Linked DNA regions of Homo sapiens. Changing the gene in region 1 together with any one later gene gives a genetic interaction. Each region holds a gene or a part of one and is shown on either strand. Other genes may lie near its edges.

Region 1 (3,751 bases):
ACCCTGGCCGACATGGCGAAACCCTGTCTCTACTAAAAATACAAAAATTAGTCGGATGTGGTGGCACACGCCTGTAATCCCAGCTACTTGGGAGGCTGAGGCAGGAGAATTGCTTAAACCTGGGAGGCAGAGGTTGCAGTGAGCTGAGACTGCGCCATTGCACTCCAGCCTGGGCAACAGAGCAAGCCTCCATCTCAAAAAAAAAAAAAAAAAGAATCTTTGTTGAGGAATACAGATTGAGCTTGAACTTGTGAACTAGGATATTGGGCCCTGGCTAAAGGCCTCCATGTTTATTTATTTATGTATTTTGGTAGAGCTGAGAGTCTCATTATGTTGCCCAGGCTGGATTTGAACTCCCGAGCTCAAGTGATCCTCCTTTCTCAGCCTCCCGAGTAATTTACTCTTATTCCTGGTTGTAAATGTTAGGGATGACCAGTCCATAGCATGGGGAGGGATGAGGGCTATGCATAAGAAGGCTCAGACATTGGAGCCTCCAGAGGTGGGTAACATTTGCTTTCGGGTTTCTCACTGGGGGAAGGAAAGGCTATGGCCAAAGCCCTGGGCATAATTTATATATGGATCTTTGGGATAAGCAAGATTTAAACAACAACAACAACAACAACAACAAGAAACTTAAAAAAACAAGTTTTTAATTTACAGGAAAAAAATGGAAGGTAATAGAGGGTCCCCACATATTCTGCACCCAATTTCTCTTTTTATTAACATCTTAGCATTAGTATTATGCATTTGTAACAACTAATGAACTAATATTGATACATTATTATTAATTAAAGTCCACCCTTTATTTAGATTTCCTTAGTTTTTACCCAGTATTCTTTTTCTCTTCCATGATCGCATTCAGAAAACCACATTACATTTAGTCATCAGGTCTCCTTAGCCCTCTTAGTTGTGACAGTTTCTCAGAATTCCTTTGATTTTGATCACCTTCACCTTAGTTTCCTCTTTACTTTCCCTTGTATCCAAGCTGTATGGAGGGCCTGGAGATTCTGATAGGACTGTAAGATTCGGGGACGGTGATATGTGTGCAACTAAGGCACCTCGGTGTCGCTTTTAGAATATAGTTGTGGAAATGAGAATAGCTCTGGTAGCTCCAGGGGCTTAGGAGAACAGAAAGAGCCCAGGAAAGGAGAAAGACCTTATTGCTGAACGCCACACCCTTGCCCCCACGCCACACCCTTGCCGCACCTACTAACTAGGGGCTAACGAATGAAAGGGTGTCGGAATATGATGGAGAAGCCCGGTCGACAGTGACGTCGTGGGCGACGCCGGGTTGTGAGCGGCCTTTCGAGCTCCCTCGAGTCCCTGAGTCTCTGTAGTGCCTCAGCTCCTGGATGTCCTCCCTTAAAGGAGAAGAACAATGCGGGCCGACTAGACGAGTCCCTTAGTTTCCTCGCCGGCGCAGACAAATACGGTTTCAGTCCAAGGAACTACCATTCCCAGAAGACAGCGGGGCGTTCCTTGCTGCATTTCTATTGGTTGGCGTTTGTTACTCCCAGCCAATAGAAAGTGAGCTTCTTGACAAGTGCCAAAATGGCGATGCCTACCACCTAGAACTGGATTGTGCGGTAGGCTTAAATTTGGGGAGGTGGTGGATGAAAAGGAAATTGGGAGGTATAGTTACAGGGCTGGAGAAGGTGGAGGAAATGAGGGAGCAAATCTGGACTTGGAATGGTGGTGGCCAAGGGACGCTTTTAGAGCTAAGGGCGTAATTAGGCAACCAGGACTGCCTTAACTCCTTGATGCCCTGTTTAATCTATTAGTCCCTTTGATACTTCTTTATTCATTTATTTGAGAGACGGAGTTTTGCTCTTGTTGCCCAGGCTGGAGTGCAATGGTGCGATCTCGGCTCACCCCAACAACCTCCGCCTCCCGGGTTCAAGCGATTCTACTGCCTCAGCCTCCCGAGTAGCTGGGATTACAGGCATGCACCACCAAGCCCGGCTAATTTTGTATTTTTAGTGGAGACGAGGTTTCTCCATGTTGGTCAGGCTAGTCTCGAACTCCTGACCTCCGGTGATTCGCCCGCCTCTGCCTCCCGAAGTGCTGGGATTACAGGTGCGAGCCACTGCGCTCGGCCGATACTTTCTTAGTGCCCCAGTTTAAGGAAGGGCGGTTCAGGAGGAGAGAGTCTGACAGGATCTTACTTTATCCCTTTAGCTCTTTTTCTTTCAAATTCCTCTGTCTCGCTTAAATCTTCCCGCATCTTCTCCTTTCTATTTAATTCTGCCTTCCCCGGTTCTCCTTAGAACCTCATGTCCTTTTCTTTAGCTCCATTTCTTTCACCTCAAAGCTGGCCGCCACCGCTGCCACCTGCTCAGAGTGAAATAATGAAGGTGGTCAACCTGAAGCAAGCCATTTTGCAAGCCTGGAAGGAGCGCTGGAGTGACTACCAATGGGCAATCAACATGAAGAAATTCTTTCCTAAAGGAGCCACCTGGGATATTCTCAACCTGGCAGGTCTCAAGTGAACTGGGAAAGAAAGATGGGAGGGATAAACCCAGAGAAGTTGTAATCACTCAGTTGTGTTTTGCTATTCCTCTTGCAGATGCGTTACTAGAGCAGGCCATGATTGGACCATCCCCCAATCCTCTCATCTTGTCCTACCTGAAGTATGCCATTAGTTCCCAGGTAAGCTTCCCGCAAACCCCCACCAAGAAGTGAGAGTTCTGGGGGTAAAAAACTTGGAGTGCATTTGGGCCCCGGTGGTTCATGGCTGTAATCCCAGCATTGTGGGAGGCTGAGGCAGGCGGATTGCTTGAGCCCAGGAGTTCAAGACCAGCCTGCGTAACATGGCAAAACCCAGTCTCTACCCAAAAATACAAAGAGTTACCCCTGCGTGGTGGTGCCCCTGTAGTCCCAGCTACTTGGAAGGCTGAGGTGGGAGGATCACCTGAGCCCTGGGAGGTCGAGACTGCAATGAGCCATGATCCTGCCACTGCCCTCCAGCCAGAGCAACAGAGTGAGACCCTGTCTCAGGAAAGAAACAAACAAACACAATTTGGGGTGCAGTTGTACAATTGTCAGCTTACTCTTTCTAGATGAAAGAGTAAGATTCTAGATTGATCTGTTTGAACAGATCATTTCAGTGAGTTTCAGTGTTCTCATAAAAATAATACTTCATTTGTTGTGATGAATATTACATTCACTTATTCTGCTGGGAGTGGTAGCAGGTAGCACAGGCCTGTGGCCCCACCTACTCAGAAGGTGGAGGTAGGAGGCTTGCTTGAGCCCAGGAGTTTGAGGCTACAGTGAGCACTGATTGTGCCACTGCACTCCAGCCTGGGCAACAGAACAACACTCCGTCTATTAAAAACAACAACAAGCAAAAGAAAAAAAGAGGATTACATTCACCTATTCTATCAACAAATACTCATGAATGCTTTTATGTGCCAGACAGTGCTTAGCCCCTGGGGAATATAGCTGTGAACAAAACCCGATGTCAGTACACAGAAAATTTAGTGGGTAATATAGACATGTAAATAAGCAGTCACTAGATGGGTTTATGATAAAGGTTAGGATAGAGTACAGATGCTCCTCAACTTACAATGGGGTGATGTGCTGATATACCACTCATAAGTTGAAAATGTACTTAATACACATAACTTGCCAAAGGTCATCTACCTACCTTTTTTTGAGTCAGAGTCTTGCTCTATCGCCCAGGCTGGAGTGCAGTGGCGTGACCTCGGCTCACTGCAACCTCCGTTTCCCGGGTTCAAGCGATTCTCCTACC
Region 2 (3,651 bases), on another chromosome or scaffold:
AAGTTTTACTTAAAAATGTAAACTTTGAAATGTTTTTTAAAAATGGTCTTTTACAGTTACTTTTTTTTCTTTCTTTTTTTTTTTATTGATCATTCTTGGGTGTTTCTCCCAGAGGGGGATTTGGCAGGGTCATAGGACAATAGTGGAGGGAAGGTCAGCAGATAAACAAGTGAACAAAGGTCTCTGGTTTTCCTAGGCAGAGGACCCTGCGGCCTTCTGCAGTGTTTGTGTCCCTGGGTACTTGAGATTAGGGAGTGGCGATGACTCTTAACGAGCATGCTGCCTTCAAGCATCTGTTTAACAAAGCACATCTTGCACCACCCTTAATCCATTCAACCCTGAGTGGACACAGCACATGTTTCAGAGAGCACAGGGTTGGGGGTAAGGTCACAGATCAACAGGATCCCAAGGCAGAAGAATTTTTCTTAGTATAGAACAAAATGAAAAGTCTCCCATGTCTACTTCTTTCTACACAGACACGGCAACCATCCGATTTCTCAATCTTTTCCCCACCTTTCCCCGCTTTCTATTCCACAAAACCACCATTGTCATCATGGCCTGTTCTCAATGAGCTGTTGAGTACACCTCCCAGACGGGGTGGTGGCTGGGCAGAGGGGCTCCTCACTTCCCAGTAGGGGCGGCCGGGCAGAGGCGCCCCTCACCTCCCGGACGGGGTGGCTGGCTGGGCGGGGGGCTGACCCCCCCACCTCCCTCCCGGACGGGGCGGCTGGCCGGGCGGGGGGCTGACCCCCCCACCTCCCTCCCGGACGGGGCGGCTGTCCGGGCAGAGGGGCTCCTCACTTCCCAGTAGGGGCGGCCGGGCAGAGGCACCCCTCACCTCCCGAATGGGGCGGCTGGCCGGGCGGGGGGCTGACCCCCCCACCTCCTTCGCGGACGGGGCGGCTGGCCGGGCAGAGGGGCTCCTCACTTCCCAGTAGGGGCGGCCGGGCAGAGGTGCCCCTCACCTCCCGGACGGGGCGGCTGGCCGGGCGCGGGGCTGACCCCCCCACCTCCCTCCCGGACGGGCGGCTGACCCCCCCACCTCCCTCCTGGACGGGGCGGCTGGCCGGGCGGGGGGCTGACCCCCCCCCACCTCCCTCCCGGACAGGGCGGCTGTCCGGGCAGAGGGGCTCCTCACTTCCCAGTAGGGGCGGCCGGGCAGAGGCACCCCTCACCTCCCGGATGGGGCGGCTGGCCGGGCGGGGGGCTGACCCCCCCACCTCCCTCCCGGACGGGGCGGCTGGCCCCCCCACCTCCCTCCCGGTCGGGGCGGCTGGCCGGGCAGAGGGGCTCCTCACTTCCCAGTAGGGGCGGCCGGGCAGAGGCGCCCCTCACCTCCCGGACAGGGCGGCTGGCAGGGCGGGGGGCTGACCCCCCCACCTCCCTCCCGGACGGGGCGGCTGGCCGGGCGGGGGGCTGACCCCCCAACCTCCCTCCCGGACGGGGCGGCTGGCCGGGCGGGGGGCTGATCCCCCAACCTCCCTCCCGGACGGGGCGGCTGGCCGGGCGGGGGGCTGACCCCCCCACCTCCCTCCCGGACGGGGCGGCTGGCCGGGCGGGGGGCTGACCCCCCCACCTCCCTCCCGGACGGGGCAGCTGGCCGGGCAGAGGGGCTCCTCTCTTCCCAGTAGGGGCGGCCGGGCAGAGGCGCCCCTCACCTCCCAGACAGGGTGGCTGGCAGGGCGGGGGGCTGACACCCCCCACTTCCCTCCCGGACGGGGCGGCTGGCCGGGCAGAGGGGCTCCTCACTTCCCAGTAGGGGCGGCCGGGCAGAGGCGCCCCTCACCTCCCGGACGGGGCGGCTGGCCGGGCGGGGGGCTGACCCCCCCACTTCCCTTCCGGACGGGGCGGCTGGCCGGGCGGGGGGCTGACCCCCCCCACCTCCCTTCCGGACGGGGCGGCTGGCCGGGCGGGGGGCTGACCCCCACCTCCCTCCCGGACGGGGTGGCTGCCGGGCGGAGATGCTCCTCACTTCCCAGACGGGGTGGCTGCCGGGCGGAGGGGCTCCTCACTTCTCAGACGGTGTGGCTGCCGGGCGGAGGGGCTTCTCACTTCTCAGACGGGGCGGTTGCCAGGCAGAGGGTCTCCTCACTTCTCAGACAGGGCGGCCGGGCAGAGATGCTCCCCACATCTCAGATGATGGGCGGCCGGGCAGAGACGCTCCTCACTTCCTAGATGGGATGGCGGCCGGGCAGAGACGCTCCTCACTTTCCAGACTGGGCAGCCAGGCAGAGAGGCTCCTCACATCCCAGACGATGGGTGGCCAGGCAGAGACGCTCCTCACTTCCCAGACGGGGTGGCGGCCGGGCAGAGGCTGCAATCTCGGCACTTTGGGGGGCCAAGGCAGGCAGCTGGGAGGTGGAGGTTGTAGCGAGCCGAGATCACGCCACTGCACTCCAGCCTGGGCACCATTGAGCACTGAGTGAATGCAACTCCGTCTGCCATCCCGGCACCTCGGGAGGCCGAGGCTGGCGGATCACTCGCGGTTAGGAGCTGGAGACCAGCCCGGCCAACACCTACAGTTACTTTTAAATTAATGTCATTTTTGAAGAATGGATTATTTAATGAACATTTTATATATAAATATATGTCTTTTTGGAAAGGGGAATTGAGTCAAGAGCAGATTTATATTCTCTTAACTGTGCTTTATTTAGGCTGAAACTAACAATTCTCCAAATATAACTGATAATCTATAAATATTTAATGACAAGTGGCAGTCTATTTAGGGAAAACTAAATTAGTATTGAGACAGTCTTGTGAATAACATATTTAACTTTAATTTTGAATTGTGAATTTCAGTTCTTTTCTTTCCATTCTTTCATTCTTTCCTACTTGCTGCCCTGCCCATTTTTTTTTTTTTTTTTTTTTTTTTTTGAGGCAAGGTCTCACTCCGTTGCCCAGGCTGGAGGGCAGTGGCTTGATCTTGGCTCACTGCAACCTCCACCTCCCAGGTTCAAGCAATTCTCATGCCTCAGCCTCCTGAGTAGCTGGGACTACAGGCGCCCGCCACCATGCCTGGCTAATTTTTTATTTTGTATTTTTAGTAGGGATGGGGTTTCGCCATGTTGGCCAGGCTGGTCTTGAACTCCTGGCCTCAAGTGATCTGTCCACCTTGGCCTCCCAAAGTGCTGCGATTACAGGTGTGAGCAACTGCACCTGGCCTTGCCCTGCCTTTTTAAATTAATTATTGTCATCTATTTTATTCTTCTGCCTTGTGTGGGAGAATAAAATCATCCTGTTTTGTTGTTTCTTTCTTCCATGAAACAGTCACTGAGTATCATTTATGTGCTGGGATCACTCCAGGTCTTGGCGAGTTAAATGAAAATGACATTGGCCCAGCTCAAGGGCCAAGGTGTGGGGTTTGGGCAGATGTGCACATTATTATAAAGTGATGTGGTGGCGAGACCACTTGTATTAATTTAGAATTTTACGTGTGTATATATATATGTGTGTGTATATATATATGTTTTAAAACTTTGTTTGGAATGCCTCAGAAAATGTTTTTTATTAACAGGAAAGAACTGACTTCCTCTGGTGGGCCAACAAAGTTTGAAATCCATATAGTGGCTCAGTTCGATAATCATAATTCTCAGGTCTGGCGAGTGAGTTGGAATATAACAGGAACGGTGCTAGCATCTTCAGGAGATGATG
Region 3 (3,651 bases), on another chromosome or scaffold:
ATGGTGGCGCGCAGCTGTAGTCCCAGCTACTCGGGAGGCTGAGGCAGAAGAATCGCTTGAACGCAGGAGGCGGAGACTGCAGTGAGCCAAGATGGCGCCACTGCACCCCAGCCTGTGCAACAGAGCTAGACTCCGTCTCAAAAAAAAAAAAAAAAAAAAGAAAAATATATGTAATAAAAAAAGAATATTCATGTTCCTAGAAAGAGTCACCACAATTACCATCAGCACATTTGTATCTAGTGAATTAGCTACATTTAGAGTTGGAAGGATCTTTAGGGGTCATCTAATCCAATTCCACATAGTTTAGGTGAGAAAAATAGAAACTGACTGGTTAAGTGTCTTGCCCACGGTCACAAGAAAAAGATCAGAGAAAGGACTAGAGTCCAAGTCTCTTGAGTTCCAGTCCAGGGCTCTTTCCATTTAGTTACAAAATTACTTAGTTATAAAAACTCTCCTTTATAGGAAAAAAAAAATCTTCAAAAAAATATACCTTGAAGTTCAGCCTTGCTCCAAGAAATAAATTATATACACAAACACACATACATACACACAAATACACACATATACGTACCAAGCCCCAAATCATTAAAAATAAGATTCATCACATCATAAGCAGTAAAAAACAGATAAATATTTGGTGGAAATAAAAGCACCTCAGGAAATAAACCCTAAAGCACACAACATTCCTAAAGTATACACATATTTAATAAACTGAGAACCCTAAATCTGTATTATATAAAGTATGCATTTACAACAGAAAATTTAGGGAATTCATGATTTAGGCTAAGCTTACTAATAATTGCAAGACAGCTGCATTCCCCAGTTCCCCATTCCCTACCACACCCAAACTTGTAAGTTTACCTCTTTAATTATTTTGGCCCCTTTTTTGTCATTGAATTCCAACTGAGCCAAAGCCTGGTCAATAGACATTCCTCGTATCTAGAATTAAAGGGTGAGAGACAAAAGAAAATAAATTAGTTTACAAAGTCAATGTTTCCTTTTCAATGAAAGTCTTACATAATTTGAGTAACTTCTAAAAACAGTGAATTGAACCCAAATAAAAGAGAAGAAAACAAGTTTGAGAGGAGACACTATTCTCTTTCAGTCAAAATGAAACAAACATTTTAACCATAAAACTGAGATTATAATAGTTTCAATAACATTAAAAGACAGCAAACATGACAGAGAGACCACAGGTTGGTAACAACCACACTAGGCATTCAAGGCATCTCCTTCTCCTATAGGATAAATGTATTACATGTATATTTGCTGCTTCAGTCTCCCCTCATCTATAAATTTCATTTCCTAGGGAAAAAAACTTAAAAGCAACAGTTTTAAAACAGGTTGAATCAAGTTTACAGATAAATAGGTGGGTTTCCTGGATTCTCTGGTTATAGCCAAACTCCTGATGCCTTTTAGTATCTATCTATCCAATGTGATTTAGTTTCTCAGAAAAAGGTGAAAATTAAGGAAAATCATACATCTCTGAACAATCATTCTTTTGACAACCTACCAATTATATCACATTCCTCACAAATCTTTTTTATTTTTCAAATCCTGGGGTGAGGGGTGGGGAGGGGAACTCATAGCTTCTTTCCTAAATTATTAATTATATGGTAATAGTCATTGCAGCTTACCAATTTTGCCAAATACCACATCTTGTCTTTGCTATATTTTATTTGTCTTCGACAGTGGTAGATTTCCTTACAAATTGGAAAAAAAAGGACAGAAAGAAAATGTTAGCAGGTTTACCACAAAATGACAATAACATATACTGTTATTTAAGTTTTTACTTTCTAGGCCTAAAGAAAATGCTGCCATAAGAAATAGAAACATTACTAAGAATTTAGAGATTATTTTCCCCTACACAAAGTTGTATTTTTCCAAAGTCTCACTATGTTAAAAGATTACTACGGGAGAAATAGAAACTATACAATGGCTGGTTTGTGTCAACACTTGCAACATTTCTATCCAAAGAAATCCTAAAAGATTTAAATGAAAGTATCTTTAAAACATTTAGCTGATTAAAAGAACAAAAGAAAAAGTACAAGAAAACGTTCATTATTAATGAGGAGAAAAATGGCAAAATGGACAAGTGTTTTCATGTGAAAAGCCAATATTCTAGGTGTTTGGCCAACAGCATAGGTTCTAGAATCAGACTGCCTGCCTGGATTTGAATCCTAACTCTGCCATTTACTAGCTACATAATCTTGAGCAAGCTACTTAACCTCTCTCTAATTTTCCTCTTCTGTAAAATAAATAAAACGATAATTAGAGGGAAATAAAGTAACCTATTTCAAGAAACCATTTTATAGTGCTTGGCACATGGTAACTTCTCAGTAAATGTTAGCTTTTATTATCTTCTATTTAAAGTTGTAGGTATGTCCTGTTTAATTACAATGTATAGTTCAAAAAGCACTTTTCACTCATTATTTCATTTAGTCTAACTCTATGAGTTGAGGGATGAAACATTTTACATATAAACTGAAAATCAGAGAAATCAAGTGACTTGTCTAAGACCAGAGGTTTGCAAGAGACAAAGTTGGAATTCAAAGAACAGAGAAGTATGATACACCTGATACAATGTCTAGCACATCTACTTTCAAAAGTTCCTCTATTGACTCTAAAACCCACTTTCTTTCCACTACTATACCAAACTGCCATTTAAAAAAAAATTAGAAAACATGTGTTATGGAAAACTATAGCAAGGAGGTCTCAAAACTTTCTAACATTCTGACTCCTGCTGGAAATTTTCAAATGCCTTAGAAAGAGCAGTTTTCTCAAGTGGCCATCTTTTAATATGTGGCAGATTTCAGTTGCAATAGAAGCAGACAGCCTGAAACTATAGCAATAGCCTAATTACATTTTCAGCAATAAAGTTTCTTGGGGAGACAGGGAGAGGAAAGAACTATCATGACTGATAATAATAATCTGCAAAAATTAATCCACTCAATGAAATCTTTCATATAGAAGAGACCCTTGGCCGGGAGCAGTGGCTCAGCCTGTAATCCCAGCACTTTGGGAGGCCGAGGCGGCCGGATCACAAGGTCAGGAGATCGAGACCATCCTGTGAATGGTGAAACCCCGTCTCTACTAAAAATACAAAAAAAAAAAATTAGCCGGGCATGGTGGCCGGCGCCTGTGGTCCCAGCTACCCGGGAGGCTGAGGCGGGAGAATGCCATGAACCCGGGAGGTGGAGCTTGTAGTGAGCTGAGATTGCGCCACTGCACTCCAGCCTGGGCGACAGAGCGAGACTCCGTCTCAAAAAAATAAAAATAAAAAAGAAGAGACCCTTTAATTTGTGCATTCTTGTGGTGGGATAATTTTAAACCTTAATTTTGTATGATTACCCTCAAATTTTACACATATAAACAATGGTAATCCTGACCAGAGGATGGCAAAAAGGAAGAAGTGTTTACAAGAAAGGCAAAAGTTAATCATCCTCTTCCAAAACTGAAAAAAAACCTCAGCATTTACTTTGGGCAGGTGAAATGTCTAAGGGCACTTTCTAAAGATAAACGAGACAAAGTCTCAGTACGTATCAAGCAAATAAAGTAACAAAGGTGGAGGTCAGAAGACCTAGTTATATATCTCTGCCATTAACTGACCTATACAGCAAATTAGATAAAGTGAGGATAGGATACGTAAAA

The links.
Region 2: changes in MED24 (region 1) and SEH1L together harm fitness more than expected from each alone (negative genetic interaction), as found in Homo sapiens cells (one large-scale study listed by BioGRID).
Region 3: changes in MED24 (region 1) and MRPL22 together harm fitness more than expected from each alone (negative genetic interaction), as found in Homo sapiens cells (one large-scale study listed by BioGRID).

The regions. Positions count from the first base shown.
Region 1 is NC_000017.11:40,052,196-40,055,946, reverse strand, and holds the start of MED24 (mediator of RNA polymerase II transcription subunit 24), read left to right. Parts: upstream 1-1,538; 5' UTR 1,539-1,586; intron 1,587-2,289; exon of another isoform or gene 2,290-2,311; 5' UTR 2,312-2,348; coding exon 2,349-2,478; intron 2,479-2,566; coding exon 2,567-2,649; intron 2,650-3,751. UniProt on the Homo sapiens protein: Component of the Mediator complex, a coactivator involved in the regulated transcription of nearly all RNA polymerase II-dependent genes.
Region 2 is NC_000018.10:12,979,004-12,982,654, forward strand, and holds part of SEH1L (nucleoporin SEH1), read left to right. Parts: intron 1-3,514; coding exon 3,515-3,651. UniProt on the Homo sapiens protein: Component of the Nup107-160 subcomplex of the nuclear pore complex (NPC). The Nup107-160 subcomplex is required for the assembly of a functional NPC.
Region 3 is NC_000005.10:154,954,423-154,958,073, reverse strand, and holds part of MRPL22 (large ribosomal subunit protein uL22m), read right to left. Parts: intron 1,704-3,651; coding exon 1,638-1,703; intron 940-1,637; coding exon 862-939; intron 1-861.